Homo sapiens: one gene and its partners. The protein of the gene in region 3 interacts with the protein of the main gene of each other region in a pairwise test. Each region holds a gene or a part of one and is shown on either strand. Other genes may lie near its edges.

The links. Proteins that work in one complex are often made in the same cells at the same time.
Region 1: the proteins of NXPE1 (region 3) and NEK7 interact in binary tests that used the Homo sapiens proteins (3 or more experiments, as listed by UniProt).
Region 2: the proteins of NXPE1 (region 3) and AHCYL1 interact in binary tests that used the Homo sapiens proteins (3 or more experiments, as listed by UniProt).

Annotation. Positions count from the first base shown.
Region 1 is NC_000001.11:198,152,585-198,159,997, reverse strand, and holds the start of NEK7 (serine/threonine-protein kinase Nek7), read right to left. Parts: upstream 3,001-7,413; 5' UTR 2,722-3,000; exon of another isoform or gene 2,592-2,721; intron 1-2,591. UniProt on the Homo sapiens protein: Protein kinase which plays an important role in mitotic cell cycle progression. Required for microtubule nucleation activity of the centrosome, robust mitotic spindle formation and cytokinesis.
Region 2 is NC_000001.11:109,987,729-109,994,764, reverse strand, and holds part of AHCYL1 (S-adenosylhomocysteine hydrolase-like protein 1), read right to left. Parts: intron 1-7,036. UniProt on the Homo sapiens protein: Multifaceted cellular regulator which coordinates several essential cellular functions including regulation of epithelial HCO3(-) and fluid secretion, mRNA processing and DNA replication.
Region 3 is NC_000011.10:114,556,872-114,564,111, reverse strand, and holds the start of NXPE1 (NXPE family member 1 isoform 1 precursor), read left to right. Parts: upstream 1-4,230; 5' UTR 4,231-4,314; exon of another isoform or gene 4,315-5,086; intron 5,087-7,240.

The sequences.
Region 1 (7,413 bases), on a different chromosome or scaffold from region 3:
TTTACAGTAAGTCAGAGCCCAAAACTATCAACTGCAAGCACCAGGAAAGATTTGGGGCATGAGGTCCTTATGAGATTAAGTACTTATTTACACAAACTGTAACTGCACTGGACTTCTGGTCATTACGATGCAATTTTTTTTTAAATTTATTAATCAGGTATGTTAGCTATAGAGGCATCAAATCTCCCCTCCTCTACTAGTACACTGCCATCATACCATATGTGCTTTCCTCATTCTTTGGGTAAGTGCTGTTTTACTGGGATGGAAATGAACTCGAAATTGTCCAGACAGGAAAATATGAAAGGGGGAAAGCAATGGTGGGTGCTACATGTATTATCTAAATAAATAAACCTAAATACTAGTTCAGACTATAAAATGAGTCTGTACGCTTAGAAATAAAGTTAGTCTTGTTAAATTGGTAAGATTTTTAACCATGGAAAGATTCCCAAGAAGTTGTGAAAACGCCTAACGATTTAGATTCTGACATTTAGTGGTTTTCATTTTCAGGTAATTTCAGAGTAAAACCCGCCTCAGTCACATGGACTATATTTAGTCTGCTGACCAACTTCGCTTCTAATCTACTATAAACTTTCAGTAGTAGTTAAGTTCTAGGTGCAGCTGAATCACGAAACGGGACACCTAGGATGGCTCAGGGAAAACTGAAGCCCCCCTCCTCCTTCCTTCCTTCCTTCCTTTCTTTCTTTCTCCAGGCTGGCCCTCAGCCTGGCGCCCCTTCCGCAGACATCCCTAGAAAAAGAACTAACGCGGCCTTCTCCGAGCCCAGGGCTGGAGTAGGAAGTACCCGCCCTCCCGAACGCGAGGTCCTGGCTGCGCATTGGCTGCGAAGGCCGTCAGTACTCCGGAGGGCGGAGCCTCCCGGCACCCAGCGGAATTTCAGGCCCGCACCTCCGGGAGGGTCCTCCGGGCTCCCGGGCTCCTTCCTCCCCCTTAACACTACCCCCGCACACACACCGGCCCCGAGAAGGCAACTAGCCTCCTCAAACGGTTCCTTTGCCTTTTTATTTCGCAGGCCTTCCTCTCACCCCATACAGTTACTGCCCCTTTGACTCCTCCGAGAGGCAAAGCTTTTTCAAAGCTCTAACACCTCTCCCCTACCCCAGCAAGTTCCCCGTGCGAGACCAAATAGAGGATGCCGCTGTTCTAAGAGTGAAGCAAGCTGTGGACTGGATCTCGCCGAGGGAGAGAGAATTCCTTCCTCTGGAAATAAAATAACTGCTGAGATTTTAAGTTAGCTGTTTCAAGAGCACTTGGCCATCACCAAGTGTTACAAACCAAGAATACTCAGCGGCCATTCAACAAGAGTTGCCACAAAGCATTAGAGGGTTAACTGTATCTCCTGTTTTACTGTTCACCGTTTTCAGGGTTTGACCGGTTGTCCCAAACATACTGTAGCTTTTGAGTGCAAGGACTATGCCATTCTTCGACCACACCACCAGCAGCTCAAGGTCCTGAACAGAACATATTTATAATACACATACTCTGTACTTTAATTCTCTAATGCAACCTGACAAGACATACTGCTGTCGCCTGGAGGGAGTGTGCATAGCCTTGAAACTGTAAATTCCTTGGAGGAGGAACTAGAAACAGTGGTTCCCATTATGATGGGTACATTAGGCTCTACAAACTATGGAAATGTGGTGTTTTCAATTGCATCCTTGAGCTCAGTAACCTCAAAGGAGAATAATCATTTTATTTCTGTGTATTTCTGATTTTCAGTTCAGTCACCAGAATTGCGCAAGGACAGTAACATGTATCTTACTGTAAACTAAGTATATTTTTTAGCATTTCTCCCCAGTGAGGACTACAGCAAGGTGAGAACACGATACATCATCTCTCCGCGACCCCAGTACGCTCCCAGTGCAAGACTAAATAGAGGATGCTGCGGTTTTAGGAGTGAAGGCCTACAGTGTAACAGAGGCAACAGAAGTTCTTTAGCTCTCAAGGCAGCATCCTCTAGGTTGTGCTCGCTTCCTTACACTGTTCTGCGGTCATACGGTCTTGTCACTTTTCTCTGTTTTCCTTTGGCTACCCTTCTCTGACTTTGGCCTCAGTTTTCAATTTCTTTTCCATTGCCACCATCACCAGCAATGTTCGCTATTGCCTCGCAATCCCTCTCTCCGACATTTTGTAATCCCGAGTCTCTCCCAAGTTCATTCTCCGACAGACCTCTCACGCTCCCTGTACTTCTGAAGCCACTTCGGATTCTCCCCTATCTGCCGGCTCCCACCACCCACTCTCTCCCAGCGCACTTCACTTTCCTAAGTCGGGCTGCTGCCGAATCCTGACAGACGGACTTCACCAATCCGCGAGAGATAAATAACCGACGTCGCCAATGAGCATCCGCCGGAAGGCGGGACTTCGCTTAAGTTCCTCGGGTCCCGAAACCAAAGACCTGTTGCCGCCGCCGCCGTGGCCACGGAGTTTCTTAGTTACCGCGGCGCCCTTGGCGGCCTCGGGCCTCTAGAGCCGGGGCCAGGTATGAAGTTTCCTGCCGCCCCCTCCCACCGCTGCCAACGAACAAGACCGAAACCCCCATCCGCCTCGAGCGCAGCGCGCCCCGCCCCACCTACCCCGAGCGAGGGTATCCCGGAGGCCGCCCCGCGCGGTCCCGACCTCCCTCTCCCGGCCCGACTCCCGCAGGCGGCCCCTCCCGGCAGGAGCTGCCCGGTCCGGGCGCCTGAACCCTGGGCAGCGACTCACCAGGAAGTTGGGAGTTTTCCGTTCTCCCGCCCGCGAGAGACCTTGGGCGGGCGGGTGGCTCGGCGCGGCGCCGCCGTCGGAAAGCGCGCTGGGCCGGGGGCTGAGGCTGCGAGGCCCGGAGCCTGTCGGCCACCTCCCGCCGCGCCGCCCCGGCGGACGCTGCAGGCGCGGGGCACCCACCCTGCGCACTGCGAGGCGCGTCCGGAGTGCGAGCCTAGCGGCGGCCCATCCTCCCGCGACTCCCGATCCTCCTCCTGCTGCCGCCGCTGTCAGGAGTGTAAACATCCCGGCATCCCCGAGGAGAGGGGCGGGGCGGGCGCCGGCCCCACCCCGCGTCGTGAGTCCAGGCCGGCTGCCCGATGGAGGCTTCCCGCCTGCGTCCCCGGCGCTCCCTGGAGCTGGGGGAGCCTCGGCGGTTTCCCTACTGGAGCCGAAGTCGCTCTGGAGGAGCCCCTCCTGGCCCCTCTCTTCCGGTTGTCAGGCCTAGCGTGGTGCGGGGCACCGCGTCCGGTCCCCTGAGCCCTCTTCCCCGGCTGCTTTTTAAGAACCCAGGGTCGGCTGCTTTTTAAGAACTTGTTTTTTCTTCATTTATATGTAAGTGCCCCCACTTGCAAGCGGTGAACCGACTTACTGATGTTCCCTTCTGGACCACAGCGTTTGTGATCCCATCTTCTTTTACCAGGTGATTTAAACTACCTCTGTGTTTAATGTGGAGTGCAGGGAAATGAGAAAAAAAAAAAAAGGCGTTTTCCTGAGTCTGGCTAAGCAAACGTTGCATGAAAGTGTCCCAGCATAGAGGACAGGGGCTTCAACAACATTCCAGAAGGTAAACTCCCTGGTGTGGTACGGAGGATCTTTGAAATAAATATGTGCAAAATCACCCAGAACCCTAGTACACGAAACTGCAAAAGGAATGCTTTGACACCAGCAGCTTCACGACTTAAGTTAACAGGGCATGAACTACTCGAGGAGACGGCTAGGAGGCAGTATGGAGTCGGCCATACCTTAATTGTCGTCTCAACTCAGTGATTAATTTTGTGACCTGGCTGCAAGTTATTTAACCTCTCCAAGTCTCAGTAACTCTCTGTAAAAGGAGATTAGTTGTAATACCAACCTCTAGGACCATAGTTAGAATTAAGTGAGATAAAGCAAAGTGCTTAACCACAAAGCTTGGCATATAAGACGTGCTCATTAAATTGTTGCTGTTGTTCATAGGTCTCTCACTAGTTTAACTTCCCTGACAAAAAGATTAGAGCCAAGAATGAGTAGATTATACCTCAAACATTTAAAATGTTAAAGCCATGAAATTAAGATCTGGAAAGTTTATTTTTAAAAAGAAAAATGGCCGGGCGCAGTGGCTCATGGCTGTAAGCCTAGCATTTTGGGAGGCCAAGTGGGGGGGGGGGTGATCACCTGAGGTCAGGAGTTCGAGACCAGCCTGGCCAACATGGCGAAACCCTGTCTCTACTAAAAATACAAAAACTAGCCGAGCGTGGTGGCAGGAGTCTATAATCCCAGCTACTGGGGAGGCTGAGGCAAAAGAATCGCTTGAACCCGAGGCGGGGAGGAGGTTGCAGTGAGCAGAGATCGCGTTACTTCACTCCAGCGTGGGTGAAAGAGCGAAAATCCGTCTCAAAAAAATAAATAAATAAATGAAAACGTTCACGATCTCAAAAGGAGGCCTTGATTCATGTGGCTCAACAAATATTCATAAATGGGCTAGGCAATGTTCTAAGGAATGAGGATACAACAGCTCACCGAGATATACAGTGCCTGCTGTCATAGAGCTTATATTGTAGTCGGAAAGGCCAAAAAAAAAAAAAAGCCAATAAATACCTACTATGCCAGATGGTGAGTCATAGAAAAATAAAGCAGGGTAGGGAGACATGGGGAGGGAGGATGCTATTTTAAATATGTTTGTCTGGGAATGCCTCTCTGACATTTGAGCAGAGAACTAAGGAAGTGAGAAATTAGCCATTTGGCTACCCAGGGTTAGAATATTTTACACAGAAGGATCAGCAAATGCAAAGACCCTAAGTGGAAGTGGGCTTGGCATGTTTGAGAAATAGGCAGGAGGTCAGTGTAGGCTAGAATTCAGTGAGCGGTGGGAAAGCAGCTGACTAAATCAGAAGAGGGAGTAGGGTACAAGAAGGGTATAGTTGTAGAATCTTGTAACCTTTAAAATTTATTCTGAATGAAAAGGAGAGCCATTGGAGGAGTGACCAAATCTGATTTGGGTTGGGAGAGAAGAGCTGCACTGTGGAGAACAGATTGAGCCTAAGAGCAACTAGATGTTAGAAGACTATTGTAATGATCCAGGTAAAATACATTGATGACAGACCAGAGTGCAGGTGGTAAAAATGGTGAGATTCCATTTCTAAGAGCAAACAAGATTTGCTGATGTATTGAATGTCAGGTAAGAAAGGAGGCAAGAACAAAGCCAATGAAATTGGCATTTGAACCAGATCATTTTATCAGGTCACACCAAATCAAATCTGTCAGTCAATAGAAACAGTGTCACTGGCGTCATACACAGGCACACATTGCAGGAAAAAAATAACCAGATATCCTTAGGGTAAAGACATGTCAACCTCAGACCAGACGTATGTGTAAGGTTTTTTTCTGTTTGTTTTGGGTTTTTTTTTTGTTTTTTGTTTTTTGTTTTTTTGGAGACAGCCTCTCGCTCTGTCACCCAGGCTGGAGTGCAGTGGCGTGATCTCAGCTCACTGCAACTTCCACCTCCCAGGTTCAAGTGATTCTCCTGCCTCAACCTCTTGAGTAGCTGGGATTACAGGCATGTGCCGCCACACCTGGCTAATGTTTGTATTTTTAGTGCAGACAGGGTTTCACCATGTTGGCCAGGCTGGCCTCGAACTCATGAACTCGAATGGTCTGCCCACCTCAGCCTCCCAAAGTGGTGTGAGCCACTGTGCCCAGCCAGTTTGGTGTTTTTTGTTTTTTAATAAACTACAGATTTATCTATGACCAAATATTCCATTGGTAAAAGCAAAACACATACACCTTGAGAACACTGACTCATAGTCAAATGGATCAAAATGAGCTCATGAAGTCCTACTAGCTGAAAAGACTGTTGAGGAAGAATCCTTATCAGTGGCTATATAGTGCCCAAAGTATTGAAATACTCTGATATGTCCTATTTCTTCACCTTAAAGTACTGCTAAGCTACAGCTAAATAGTCATACAGTGTTTCAAAGATTGGAAGGTTGTCAGAACTGAATCCACCACACTTTTTCTCTTTAGCTTTTTATCAGCTTTGTGGTGGATAGGGAAAGTTGTTCCTGGCCACTGGCCTCCTGGCTGTGAGCAAATGCTAATGGAAACGCAGAAAAACCTGGCCAAAGAGGATCTGTGGTCCAGGATCTTTAGAACAGAATCTAGCTTTAACTGCTTTTCTATTCATCTCCCCACCAAGCTTGCTCCAAAAATGCTTGTTTGGCTTCATGAAACACATTAATTATAGTCCTTTATATGAAGTACTTAGTGTTTATACCTAATTACCACGCAATACATACCATTAACTATCAGATTAACTTTGCTGTAAGTGGTTTTTGATTATTACACTTGAAACCTCTCAGTTACACCAAGTTTTTATGTTTTGTTATTCATATATCTTGCTGGCCCCACAGGTAATATCAATTATTGAAACTACTCTTTCTCCCTAGGCTAACCCAGACGAGATGTTATGTACTGGGATCAGTGTAAATGCAATTTCTCTGTAAGGAGAGAAGCTTGCTAGAAAAACATTTTCTTAAGGAAAAATGATGAAGTAATACTAAAAATAATTCTCCTTTGAAAGAGAGCTTAGCCACTGGGGTAGACCAGAAAGGTCTAGCCTTCTTGACTCAAACATAGTGCTGGCAACAGGTGTATTTAAAAAGCTACTAGTGGTATTGGCAGCCACTGAATTTGGCAGCTAACTGGTGATGAGGCTTAGTCAAGCTGTTGAAATGTCTGGACTCAACTGGGCCAAGAGGAGGAAGTCAGAGTGCAGACTGCAAGCAACTCAAGGGAGATCACTTTTCTCTGGCCCTGGCTGTGGTCACTATACAAAGTCAGAAAATAAATCTTTATCTTACTTTGAAAACACCCATGAAAAATAGTAGGAAGTTACTTTTTCACCTTTAATGGCCTCTTGCATTTCATTGTTAATAGATCATGCAGATGAACTTCCCATTAAAACAATAAAATCGGCCTAAATTTCATTCTCACATCAAACCCCTAGAATTCAAAATCACAGAAAGACAACTCTCCTATGTCCCAATTATCTAGTTATGGTATTTTGAGAATACAGTTCATGGTTAAAAATAGTGGCATTACCACCAGTGGCTTTTCCTGGCTATTTTTATAGTGGTTATTAAACTGAGGAAGCATTTAAATTCACTATGTATATTTTTAATGTAGAGAAATGTAGTATTTTATATTGGTTGCAAAACAGGAAAGAAACAGTACAACTAGCAGTTTATGTCATGATTTCCTTTGGTCAGCAGAATATAACCGAACTTATGTTTTTTTATAGTATAAAAGCCAAAGGGCCAATATGCAGTAAGTAATAAGTCACAGCAATGAAGAAAATATATTCAGAAATTATTTCCCTTTTCATTCTTGTACACCTCATCCTTAATGTGGAGCCAAACCATGAAGCCATTTCGCAGAACCTAATTTCCTCAACAA
Region 2 (7,036 bases), on a different chromosome or scaffold from region 3:
TGTCTTGCTTGCTAAGAAAGCTGGTGCTCAGAAGCTGGGCACTGAACCCTCAAGTATTGAATAATAAGTGGGATACCACCTGGCCACCCATAAGAAACTGAATTAGTTACCAAAGCAACTGGATACATCTGCTATCTCTAGGAAGCACCTATTTCAACTTCCAAAATAGCAAAATTTGCCGGGTGCAGTGGCTCATGCCTGTAATCCCAACACTTTGGGAGGCCATGGCGGGTGGATCACCTGAGGTCAGGAGTTCGAGACCACCCTAACCAACATGATGAAATCCCATCTCTACTAAAAACAAAAACAAAAACAAAAAAAACACCAAAAAAAATTTAGCCAGGTGTGGTGGCACATGCCTGTAATCCCAGCTACTTGGGAGGCTGAGGCAGGAGAACTGTTTGAACCCGGGAGGTGGAGATTGCAGTGAGCCGAGATCGTGCCATCACACTCCAGCCTGGGCGACAAGAGCAAAAATCCATCTCAAACAAACAAACAAACAACACAAAATAGCAAAATTCTGAAGGTCTCCTTTTCCCCTGAATCTTGCCTAAGTTATACACTTGAAGTGAAACAGAACACACAAAATGTAGTGCCAACTAGAGCCTGAGCTTCTGGCTAGGATAAGCATTGGCCCAGTTCCCAGAAGACTGTAATTCTAAAGAAGGTGTGTTTCAAAGAGAGAAGGGCATGTATAGCTTTTGAGCATCAAACTCAGCCTTTGACTCAGAAGGGGCAGCCAGGGTTGCAGAGTAAGAACCAGAAGTTTGCTCATCACTGCCGGACGGAGCTGTTGTTTATTACTTTCAGAGTTCCAATGTACTTTCCAAAATCAAACTATTCAACTCATCGCTAATCCCCAAACCTCAAATACCCTATGTGAAAGCCTCCCTGTTCTTTAAATCAAGAGCATGTATAAACCAGGATACCAGTTTCAACTTTGGACAGAGTCTCCCTAATGCTAAGGGTTTAAAAGTTGTTTCAATGGTGAGAAATTCAAGTTACCTTCCCCATTATTGTCTAAGGATATCCCTATGCCCACTGCCACTGGGCTAAGAAGCTGGAGGCATATATTCAGATGTCTTCTCCCTGACCTCCTATTTCTGGCTTTATAAAGGGATCTATTAAGTTGGAAATTCTCATCAATTTCTCACCTGCAGTTCTTGGTACTTCCTTATACCTATGTGAGAGGGCTCTAAGTTAGAAAAATCACCCCAGCCAACTGAAAGGGAAAGTGAGTCAAAGCCACCACATAAGTCCAACTTACTTTCTCCAAGGAATGATTATCTCACATTATTTTATTCAATAAGCATTTATTGACAGTATTATGTGCCAGGTACTATATAAATATGTGTGAGATACGGTCTTTGCCCTCAACATATTCCATCTAGAAAAGTCAAATGATGAGTAAAATTCAAATATCAGGTCAGTCCTTAAAATATAATAGTTTGAGAAGTACTACATTGAAATCCAACCTATTTTTGAGAGACATACAGAAGCAAATTATTTTGTTTAGTTTTGATAATCTACTATGTGAGCTACTATTTCAAACACTCCTACGGAATCAGCTCTGGAGCTTCAGGGGCATCTGCATTTCATATGAAGAGCAGTAGAGTTGAGATAATACCAAAAATTCCCCCAAAGTGGCCGAAATGCCGGTTCGAATGTGTGTTAAGTTCCTGAGCTGAACTCTCAAGGCACTTATAATGAGTCTTTTGGGAAGCTGAGGAGCATCCCAAAGAGGGAGCTGACAATGCCAACAACCTCAGCTTTGTTCCAAGCCATAAGGACAAACTGCAGGCTGGAAACTTAAATCTCTTAGCAGTTTGTGGACTTGTAATGAAAAGAGATGCTGTGGCTTGGAGGCCTGGCCTTCCACATCAGGACTTTAAAACCCAGGATCCATGAGTTTCAGAAGTCCCATAAATCCTCTAACAGAATACGCATATTTTTGTGCTCCTGAATTTTCCTGAGGAAAGAACCAGGATTTTCATTAAACTCTTAAAAGGACCTCTGACTCAAAGAGTAAGAACCATTGTTCTACAGTCTCTAATCCAGTGATTCTCAAGAGCATTCCCTCAAATAGGCAAAAGAGAAGCATATTCCAATTCTCTATCTTCTACACAAATCTGTCTACTTACTGACCTCTCTTCTAAAATTAGAAACAAAGATGGGGATGTGCATTTTGAAAATTCAAAGTGAATCTCTATTTTCTACATCCCCAAAATAAAGCTAACAGTCATGAGAACCTGAAGTCTTCTCCTTAAAGTCTTTGAGAAAGGAGAAGGGGTGGGTCTGGTCAAAGAGGGCAGATCAGAATCTCTGTCCTTTAACTTTTTTTTTTTTTTTTTTTTTTGAGACGGAGTCTTGCTCTGTTGCCAGGCTGGAGTACAGTGGTGCGATCTTGGCTCACTGCAACCTCCACCTCCTGGGTTCAAGCGATTCTCCTGCCTCAGCCTCCCGGGTAGCTGGGACTACAGGTGTGTGCTGCCACACCCAGCTAATTTTTTTTGTGTTTTTAGTAGAGATGGGGTTTCACCATGTTGGCCATGATGGTCTCGATCTCCTGACCTTGTGATCCTCCTGCCTCGGCCTCCCAAAGTGCTGGGATTACAGGCGTGAGCCACTGGGCCCAGCCTGTCCTATTAACTTTTATGGTAGGTCTCTCTCTTTTCTTCCCCCCGCCCCCAGATTTCTGGAACCACAAAGGAAACAGGTCATGGCCCAAAAGCTTTGACGTGAGGTCTTGACGTGAGGTCAAGCCAGTCTTGGGGGAAAAGGGACAAAGTATTTCCCATTAAGCATATGGAAACCTATGTCCCAAAGGTTCACCTTAATACAATTAGTAAGTACTAGAAGAGTTGGAGCCATTTATTAAAAACAGAACTTCCAAAATCCTCTCATTGCTCAAAACTCAGTATGAACGGCTTCATTCAGGAAGTCTAAGTGAATGAAAGATGGTTATACTCATCTCCTCCAGCCTCTTGCCCCTTTACTCTGTCACTCACAAATTTACTACGTAGTTCACACTGAGCCACACATCATTGTGGATCAGCACATTAGCATTTTCCTTGGCACACAGGCTCAGAGGGATTCCACTAATGCCATCGTACACTCGCAGGTTCCGGAGAGAAAAGAAAAACATGTCAACAATAGGGTGTGCTCTTGCTGAGCAGTTCCTCAAATTGTGAAGAAGTAAGCCTGAGGCAGGTCCAAGATGAACAGCATGGAACAGAGAGCAGTCCCAGACCCCTCCTGTTTAATATGCCCCATTTCCATCACACAACTGAGTACAGGCTGTCCACTTTAAAACAAGTGAACTGGCTTGGGCTGGTAGAGAAGAACATGTTAAGCCCATTAAGCCCCACAGGTTAAGTACACAGGCACATCAGCGGAGGCGTTGGGGCTTTTATGGTAAGAAGCAGGAGCATGCTTGGAGAGTCTTGTACCTGTGGTTCTCAAAAGTACTTTTCCAATCTCTACCCCAGATTTCCAAATACTACCTTTTACCAATAGTTCATTAAACTTTTTACTTTGTGTTCCATTTGGGTAGTGAATGATTAAGCCCCCCAATGTATACTGATAAGCAGTATCCATCATTATCTACATTCTGAGATTAAGGCACCAGGCTAAATCCTTTAGAAAAATTAAACAGAGATAGAAACAAAAATGAAAGCAGTCTGAGTCTCTCAACAAAGGCATGGATGCTCCACTCTAGTTCTATGAGTGGCATGCAGCAAAGGCCACACATTTCTACAGGAGAAAATCAGTTATACATAATTAGAAGCAGGCTGTTAAGAGCAATGAGAAAACAGTACCTGCAGGGATGGGGGCGGGGGTGCTGGAGTACATACCTAAAATGATAAAGTCACAGTTCAGAAGTCTTTGCAATTATTTCATGTAATTCAAGGATTCTAGTTTGGGAAAACCCCAAACACCTGAAGTTTAAGGAAATAAACTCCTGGACTGAGACTGGCCCAGTGTCTGACAAATACCCACATTCTATGAGTGCATTATGTATTACGGGGGATGAATGGGGAATGGTAAGGTAGAGGACATCTCAACTCCATCAAAAGCTCTAAGATCTCTGTCTACACACCCCACCCCTGTAGTTAACAAAATGTTTTGGGGTTCAGTAGCTGTAAGCTCTATATAAAATAACATTTTTGTCAGAAAAAAATTTTCTTATTGAAAAGACATTCCAATAGAAACTTCTTTGTTTTGGCTCTTTAACATTTCAAAATTAGGCTCTCATTTGCACTATCATGTTGCATCATCCAGAGAGTTATAAATAGGGTGGCCACATAAACCAGGGTAACTTTCAGAGCTACGGAGGCACTCCTTGGACTGCATGCTAGGATAACAGGTATAAACCAGAATTGCGCCAGGCAAACCAGGATATATGGTCACTCTAGGTACAAAAAAACCCCACTAATTACTATTTACTAAATGCTAACCCTCTCAACCATGTATATAGATAGCACTATCATTGTTCCCCATTTTACAGATGAGAAAAGGACGTCACTTGTTGAATGTCCCACAACTATTAGATGGTAGAGACTAAAGGTAAAACTGACTCCAAAAATCAGTGCTTACCTTATGTTGTACTACTACTCACAGTTTTAGGAACAGAAACGGGAAGTTAAAGGCGTCTTATGTAACAGCCAAGCAACAGTGGGACAAAAGAACTACTTGAGTGAGTCAAAGGAAAATATGGAATCAGAAAAGGAAAGGCAACTGCAATTCTGTGTGAATTTTTATTAACTGCTTACTACACAATAGGCACTGATAGTATTGACAATAATCAAAAGGAAAATTTGTGGTAAGAATTTGTCTTCAACTGGGGATTCTCAGATTTCAGGCTAGAAAAAATTCTGGTCTATGCACGTAGGTTGCCCTTCACATGACAGGAATGCTTCTGACGCACCTCATTAGCATGTGTTCTGAATTACTATTCAGTTCTAAATTATAATAAAATGTATCCAGTATAATCAGGGTTGACATTCTTTATAAAAATGCAATACTCACATTCCCAAACTTGAGAAACAGGTACGTATAAATGATTCTCCTTTATTCGCCAGTTCCTTTAAAACAACCCCAAGAGGGCATTAAAGTGCTTATTTACAGATCATTAACTACTCGGAGTGGCAGAGTACACTTGCTAGGAGTCACAGGCAACTAAAGACCTGCATGATTCCATGTATCAAAATATCCTTTATAGACAACTTTCCAAGAATACTATATTGGGGTGGGCGTGGTGGCTCTTGCCTGTAATCCCAGCACTTCGGGAGGCTGAGGTGGGAAGATCGCTTGAGCCCAGGAGTTCAAGACAAGCCTGGGCAACACAGGGATTTCCCCATCTCTATAAAAAATAAAAATAAATTTTAAAAAAGAATATTATATTGGGTAAAACACTCTGGATCCAAATGACACACTCCTGATAAAAGAAAAGGTATACATTTGTAACCTTGGCAGCAAAAGATCTAGACAACTACTGATCTAGAAATCTTCTAACAGATTTCTGTTACAAGCTAAATGTCTAAAGAAACTTGGAACAAAGTAATTTGGAAACTAGAGTGTAACTAACTAAACCAAACAAGAAAAAGAGATGTAATCAATACCTGCGGAGAAATCTTAAAAAGAGGATCTTCTTACACCCCAACTCCTGTTTTAAAGACTGCTACTACAACAGCAGCCACTCTAAGGAGAATCAAGAGATACTAATGATGTGAAGATAGGAAATGCCAACCTATGAAATCTCCTTTCAGTGATTCTGACAAGTCCTGGCGTAAATTCTATACAACTGCACCAAAAATTAACCGTAAGATAACTCTGATGACAAAAGGAGAAACCTGGATTTTACCTATCGGGTTAACACCCAAGCTGTACCCATTGGGGCTCTACTTGGTGTGCTTCCTAAGTCTCAGCTGACCCTTTTGATGAATTAGTGGCACATAGCTTCATTCAAATAAAGAATATCCTATAAACAAAAGTAGTTTCTTCTGTGCTCTTCTCCTTCCCCACATTTTGCTGATGGGTCTGACTCCACAGATCCTAGGTCAAAATGTTTAATGGATCACTCTGGAGAGTGCCTTTAATGTTCAGAAGTTCAGAGAACAGCAAATGTTCTGAAAGGCCTTCCGGAGAAACATGCTTATTGTAAGAGCTCTCCAACAAGTTGGAGATTTGGGTTTACACTATGAAAAAAGAATCAACTTGACACAGTGTCAATTTCCAAAGGTCCAAGGACAGTTACCACTCCTGTTACACAAAGTAGCAGCAAAAGAGGGATAAATAACCAGTGGTTATGGGGAACTAGATTACTTACTTGGTTTGACCGATAACTGCCAACATTAAACAAGGATCTTCTTCAGTTGTGGTACACTTAACTCTTAAAACTCAAGGATTCCTTTTCTTACCTCAAATTTTCCTAGCCATACCATCTGAAATCACCAGTGACAGTCGTGAACAAGCCTTACAATGTGAATTACACTACAGCTATTAAGACATTCCCGTGAAAAATTATTTTAGAACTCTGTGTCAGGAAAAGTCGTCCCCTTGAGGAATTGACATGTATTATTTCCCATGCCTGCTAAGGAGACTGTAACTATGATTCTTTTCATCCTCTGGCTGCTAAAAGTTTCAAGTTGCATGTGATCAACCTCATCAACTATCTTAGCCCTCGAGGTTAACAATATTTTTTTCATTCTTTCTATAGTTTTTACTTCCTTTTATATCACATATATGTTCTGTGTTATAAGCCACTTCAAATGCCCATTGAAGAAAGAATATAAATATACGAATAGACTTTTAAAAAATTACACTGCTATCTTAACTCCCCAACATGCCCCTATCTCCACCTGTTCCAAAAAAAATAGGCACTTATTTGGCAGATGAGGAGATGCAGGTACAAAAGCTAATTAATTTGCTCAAGGTCATATCCCTTTAGTTGACTTCTCGACACCCAGACATCTCAAATCTTCAATCAAACCAACAAGTCCTATTTTGTTCATAGCAGTGTGATAGACCTTGGCAT
Region 3 (7,240 bases):
ATTCCATGATATATATATACCACATTTTCTTTATCCACTCATTGATTGATGGGCATTTGGGCTGGTTCCATATTTTTGCAACTGCTAATTGTGCTGCCATAAACATGTGTGTGCCAGTGTCTTTTCTCATATAATGACTTCTTTTCCTCTGGGTAGATACCCAGTAGTGGTATATCTACTTTTAGTTCTTTAAGGAATCTCCATACTGTTTTCCACAATGGTTGTACTAGTTTACATTCCCACCAGCAGTGTAAAAGTGTTCCCTTTTCACTACATCCACACCAACATCTATTATTTTTTATTTTTTAAATTATGACCATTCTTTCAGGGGTAAGGTGGTTTGCACTGTGGTTTCGATTTGTATTTCCCTGATAATTAGTGATGTTGAGCATTTTTCAATATGTTTGTTGGCCATTCCTAAATCTTCTTTTGAGAATTGTCTATTCATGTCCTTAGCCCACTTTTTGATAGACTGTTTGTTTTTTTCTTGCTGATTCGTTTGAGTTCCTTGTAGATTCTGGATATTAGTCCTTTGTCAGATGCATAGTTAGTGAAAATTTTCTCCCACTCTGTGGGTTGTCTGTTAACTCTGCTGATTATTTCCTTTGCTGTGCAGAAGCTTTTTAGGAGTTAATTAAAATAATCCCAAACTTTAGAGATAAGCGTCCACACGTGGCATCCCAGTTATTTTCAAGTTTGCAACTGCAGGCATGTAATAAATGACTGGAAGTAAATAAGAAAATGAATGAATCAATAAGTAAATTCCCTATATGACTCATATGAGGAGAAAGTAAAATTTCAGAAAAGCTTCCTGAGAGATAAAAAGAGAGATGAGGGATTAGTGACAGAAAATATGACTCACCCTCTTATTTGCCCTCATCTTTATTGCCTCTTGTACTGAACATCTCTTGCTGAATTGTGACTAATATTCCTACTTCCAGAAAGAGGGCCCCTCTTTTCCTGGAGAACTGTACCTTCCCCACTTTATAGCATGCTACTGAGACTCTGAGACTCTCAATCATGTGATTTTTGCCTATTTTTGGTGCCTACTGGTTCATCAAAACACTCTTCCCCCAAACCCTTCATAAGTGATTGGTACTAGCACAGTTGATTAGAGTTGTTGGTTTTTTTCTGTGACTTAATATAAATTCTGAAAAGAAATGGGTCTCTCTCATTCTGAGATCTTGAACACCAACGACCATGTATGGCTTAAGCATGTTAGGACTATCTTGCTGCATTATCTTGAGAGCAAGCATCTCTAAGAAAATAGGACAGGAGAGCCTACAGGCTTAGAGAGAAGCTTGATTACATTGTTTGAACCACAGATCGAGCCTTATCTGAAGCTAGATTAATTCCTAAGACTTCCCACTCATATGAGTCATTAAGTATACTTTTTCCTTTAGCTTGTGTGATTGGATACAACGACTGAAAGAGATAATTTACTTCTGTAAAGTCAACTTGACTCTGGATAGTAATAAATAAGAGAGATTACAGATGCAGTTGTGAAAGTTGTTACAGAGTCTAGGAAAATGGCATAATTAAATAGTCCCAGGATTTATGTTTGATATCAAACAGAACTTGTTGGATATCCTGATGAGAAATATGTAAAATAATAGTATTTCTGTCTTTTCCTATGATTCCTACTGAAATCAGTAAAGGTGGACACAGAGTTTAACAGAGACAGCCATGAGGTATGACCTCTCCACATATCATATGGAAGCACTGAGAATGTGTGCAAGGGCTGGGAAGACAGAGCAGTGCTGTGCATAATCCCCAAGAGGGAAGAAGAGAGCATGGACTCTCAGAAGACTGGATATTGGCACTCAGCACCAGGAAATATTTCTAACCACTCTCCCAGAAGAAAATGCAATAAATAAACCCAACATTTACAGGGAGGCTAGCAGAAAATTTCAAATGCAAAGATGAACACATAACCAAAAATTACCAATCATTTGAAAGAGACTAACACTTGAAAGAGAGGCATAAAGCACAATAATCAGAAGAAATTGACATGCCAAGAAAACAAAGTTAAAAGGACAGTTGATACAAGAATTTAGAATAAGTGTGTTTAATTACCAGACTGATGTGAGAGGATATTGCAGCCATACTTAGAGTTAACTAGATATTTGTTAAATTTAAAATATGATACGTGAAATAAAGAAAAACTTGAGGGACACACTAAAGTTCAAAATGAAAACAATAAACTGGAGAAATAAAATGTTAACTCAAGAATTCTTGCAGAATACAGAATAAAAGGAAAGTGTGATCAAAATTATGAAAGAAAAGTTAACAGATATTAGATCTCAGGTCTAATGGGCCATTAAAAGCGCCAAACATGATGAAGATAAAAAGATCTGCATAAAATTTCATAATACCAAGGATGAAGAGAAAAATGCTACAAAGATTCACAATTATACTAACTTTGACATCAGACATTTCATAAATGACATTGGATGCATGAAGAGAATGAAACAGTATCCTCAAGGCTAAGAAGAAAAATATTTTTCACCTAATTCTATAGCAAGTAAATTTATCATCTATTTAGGAAGAAAAAATATGTACTCAGTCTAATACTGGTCCCCTCTGAAAGAGCTACCAAAGACTTTACAAGATAAGAAACAAATTGAGTAGTGAGGAGTAGGTTTTAGAAACAATATTGGTTAAAGAAACCAAGGTAACAAACAATATTGCCTAATTGTGAGTGAGGCAATATGTTCATATGAACTGTTGACACATGCAATAACTTGGATGGACATCGTGGACGTTACGCTGAGTGGGAGAAAAAAGCCAATCTCAAAATTTACTCCCATGCATAAATAGTAGTAGTTGGGGTGGTGATAGTAGTAGTTGCTAATTATTTAGTGCTTAAACTAAGTGTCAGAAACTGTTTTTAAATGTTGTACATGTATTAATTCATTTAATCCTATGAGTACTTAGCACAGTACTAATAATACTTGTGATCTTCAAAACTAAATCTTACAAATTGGCACAGGGTCTGGGCATCCAGGCTTAGAAAGAGAGATGAAGTTAGATTTATGTTACAGAGCTGAAGTAACAGTCACATGACAAATATGAAGGTTCCAGAGGGAAGGGCATGAGGCATGAGAGAAAGGTCTCCAATATGTAGTCAGTAAAATATTATTCAGCACTAAAGAAATAAGCTATCAAGCCACAAAAAGACAGAGAAACTGAAATCCGTATCGCTAAGAGAAAAGCCAATCTGGGACAGCTACACACTGTATGATTGCAGCTATGTGACATTCTGTAAAAGTCAAAACCATGGAGACAGTAAGAAAACCAGTGGTGACCAGGGGTTAGAGGGGAAAGAAGGATTAATAGGCCTAATTATTCATATACACCCATATATTCCCTTTCATGTTACAGGCATTTGGCATAGCAGAAGTTACAGCAACATTTACTGTATTGGTGAATTAAATAATGTTTATGATAATGACGAGTTAATGAACCATATCCCCTTTCCCTAACTCAGAGCAAATAGTCCTTCCCCATTTATTAGATATCCTTTTCAAACCGATAAAAGATCCAGCTGGGAAAAGTGGCTCATGCCTGTAATCCCAGCACTTTGGGTGGCCGAGGAAGACAGACCACTTGAGCCCAGGAGTTCAAGACCAGCCTGGGCAACATGGTAAGACCCCATCTCTACAAAATACAAATTAAAAATATTAGCCAGGTGTGGCAGCATGCACCTGTAGCCCCTAGGCCCAAGGCAGAAGGATGGCTTGGGCCCAGGAGTTCGAGGTTGCAGTGAGCTATGATCACGCCACTGCACTCCAGCCTGGGCAACAGAGCAAAACCTTGTCCAAAAAAAAAAAAAAAAGAAAAAAAAAGAATTCTCAATCACCCACCAGTTCTCTGCATGGTGTCCACTGACAATTTGTTCTCTTGTTTGGAGTTGTCGTGAGACTTCAGATTTTCTGAGGAAAGCCTATCCATAGAGTCACTTGGGGTATTTTTACACTATGACTTCAAGGACCACAGCTGTTTCAGAACTAAGAGGTTTTCCATTCCCAAGGGTCACCAGTAACATGGAGAGAGAAGGAATCTCAAAGAATACCCGAGTAACACCCAGTTAACAGAGGCTGTGGAATTATCTAATTGTCAGTTAATTGTACTACTGTTTATTGCCTCTTCAAATCTCCACCCCAAGATAAGCCAATTTACGAGGAAAACAGACTGATGAAAATAAATGTGTTCACAGACAAGGAACAAAAACATTTTACACAGCCACAAGAGCCAGTTAAGAACTCACAGGTACTTTTCCAGCCACCCAGATAGGAGAGATCATTAAAACAGGTGAGTAAGCAAAACTATGGAGACTGCCTTTCTCTATTTCTAATCTTGCCAGTGGTCAGTGGAGGGCAGGGAAGAACAAAGCAAAAGAAATTAGAAAGACTGTGTCTGCTGAGGGGTTCTCTCAAGTCAGAGAAAGATAAGAAAAGGGAGAAAGCTCAGAAGAAAGTGTGGGAAACAAAAAAAAAAACTGATAGTGAGAGCCTCTCTTACTGACAAGGATAGGCTGGTTTTGACGGTGAGACAGCATCAAGATAAAATATTTCTCTAATAACCAACCAGCAAAAGTCCCCAGTGCTTTGTGGGAAGCAAGCATGGATACAGTCACTCAACCTAACATCTAGTTGGAGAGAGGAAGAAGGACATCAAAAATACCTGTTTACAACTGATATTTCTTTGCCTTGTTTTATGTATGACATTGTTTGGGTGGAAAATGTATGAATATGTCACAGGAATTCAAAATACGGGAGAGATCGTTGTGGTCTAGAGTTATGCTGGAAAGTTTCCTGTAGAGATTGCCCCTGAGCTGGGGATTCACTGACTATAGAGTCTAGATTGGTGCAGGGGCAGGCCACCCCAGGTGGGCAGTAGGATGAGTCATAAACAAAGCCAGAAAAGCAGGAAGGATTCTTTTTTAATTTTTGTCTTTGAGTATGTGTGTATCCATGTATTGTGCTTTGTATGTATATTTTTAATTTACATAAAAATGTGATAAAGATTTATGTTTATTTCTTTCTTCACTTAGAGCTGTTTTTAAGAGCTCTTCATATTACAGGTAAATCTAGTGAGTTGTATCTAACTGTTGGATAGTATCCCACAATACACATCCACTACATGTTTCTTAACCATTTCATAGTAATACATATTAAAGTCTATTTAATTCCCTACAATTACAGCTATACATATAATCAACTGAAAACAAACTTTGTATGTGATTCTTTATGGACCTGACTGAGAAGTCCTCTGTGATGTATCCAGAATGAATTGCTTGGACATAGGGCATAGATAAACACAAACTAACAGAAATATTGCCATTCTGCTTTCAAAACGATCATGTTAATTTGTACTCTTACATAGCACAGCAGAGTTATGTATAAAGATCCAATCTATATTGTGACCTAGTTCAGCTTAAGTCCATAACAGGAGGATTGTTTAGCTTTAGAAAATATACGAATGTAATACATCACATTTAAACATAAAAGTTTAAAAATTCATATAATTACCTCAATGAATCAGAAAAGGCCTTTGTCAATAACTCAACTTCCATTAGTAATAGAAACACTTCACAAACTTTCTTAAAAGAGAACTTCCTCAATCTAATAGAAGGCATTAAGAAAAGCAAATATCACAAATCCAACATCATATATTTAATTACACATAGTAAAATGTTGAAACTAACTATGAAAACAAGGCAAACGTACCCAATATGGCCACTTCTAATCATCTTTGTTCTCTATGTGTGCCTATATAAAAGCACTATTAAAATAAAGCACTTGCATTTCTACACATCAGCCACAGATATTTGTTTGGAAAATGAAATAAAAAGAAAAACATATAGAATGTGCATATATATGGATATATATATACACACACACATAAACACATATACATAGATGTGTGTATAGTTTATATTTATAATTATAAATAAAATTTATGTTTCCCAAAATAGTAGACTTGCTTATAGTCTCCTTTTGAGAGCAACTAGAAAAGCTAGAGGATGTTATATTTGATCTGTTAAGCGTCAGAGAGCAACTGGGGCAGTGAGGGGTTGAGAGATCTAGATTCTAGAGAGAAAGCAAGAGAGGAACAAAGGGCAGTTAGGGAAATAGAAGGAAAATGAGGTAACATATTCAAAGTGCTGATGCTTTTAACCACCAAAAACAAAAATAAATAAATAACACTTGTCAATCTAGAATTGTATAGCCCGCAAAAGAAACCCTCAAAATGAAAGCAAAATAAGATTTTTTAAAATGTAACCTTGAGAATTTGTCACTAGAAGATGTCTTACAGAATATTAAAGATAGTTCTTGAAGCAGAAGATAAATTCTCCCAAATGACAGTAGAGAACGGCAAAGAAGAATGAAAAAGAAGGAAACTAAATGTACAAATATAAATGAACAAGGATTTTATATATATATATATATATATATATATATATATATATATGTATTATATATAATATATTGTGGTGTTTTAAATATTCCTAGAATTAAACCAGTCAGTGGTGAGTGCCTATAGTCCCAGCTACATGGGAGGCTAAGGTAGAAGGATCACTTGAGCCCAGTAGTTCCAGTCCAACCTAGGCAGCATATTTCTTTTCCATCTCTAAAAGAAATAAAATAAATATTTCTAGAACTGAAATGCCTGACTATAGCAAGAAAATGTGAAAGAGTTAAATGTAAATGGAGTACAGTTTTCTAAGGTCCCTCATTTCCTAATAATTAGTAAAAGTACCAATTTATATTAGACTTCATTAAGTCAAAGATGCATATTGAAATTTCCAAAATAGAGTAGAAATTATTAAAGTAGTTTTTATAACAAGCTAAATGAGAATGGAAATAGAATAATTTTAGAGTTTTTGACTAATACACAAGAGGTCAAAAAGGGGGCCGGGCACGGTAGCTCATGCCTGTAATCCCAGAACTTTGGGAGGCTGAGGCACGCAGATTACTTGAGGTCAGGAATTCGAGACCAGCCTGGCCAACATGGTGAAACCCCGTCTCTACTAAAACTACAAAAAATTGGCCAGGTGTGGTGGCTCACGCCTGTAATCCCAGCTACTCAGGAGGCTGAGGCACTATAATTGCTTGAACCCAGGAGACAGAGGTTGCAGTGAGCCAAGATAGTGCCACTGCACTCCAACTTGGGCAACAGAGTGAGACTCTGTCTCAAAAAAAAAAAAAAGTCAAAAAGGGAGAAAATGGAATAG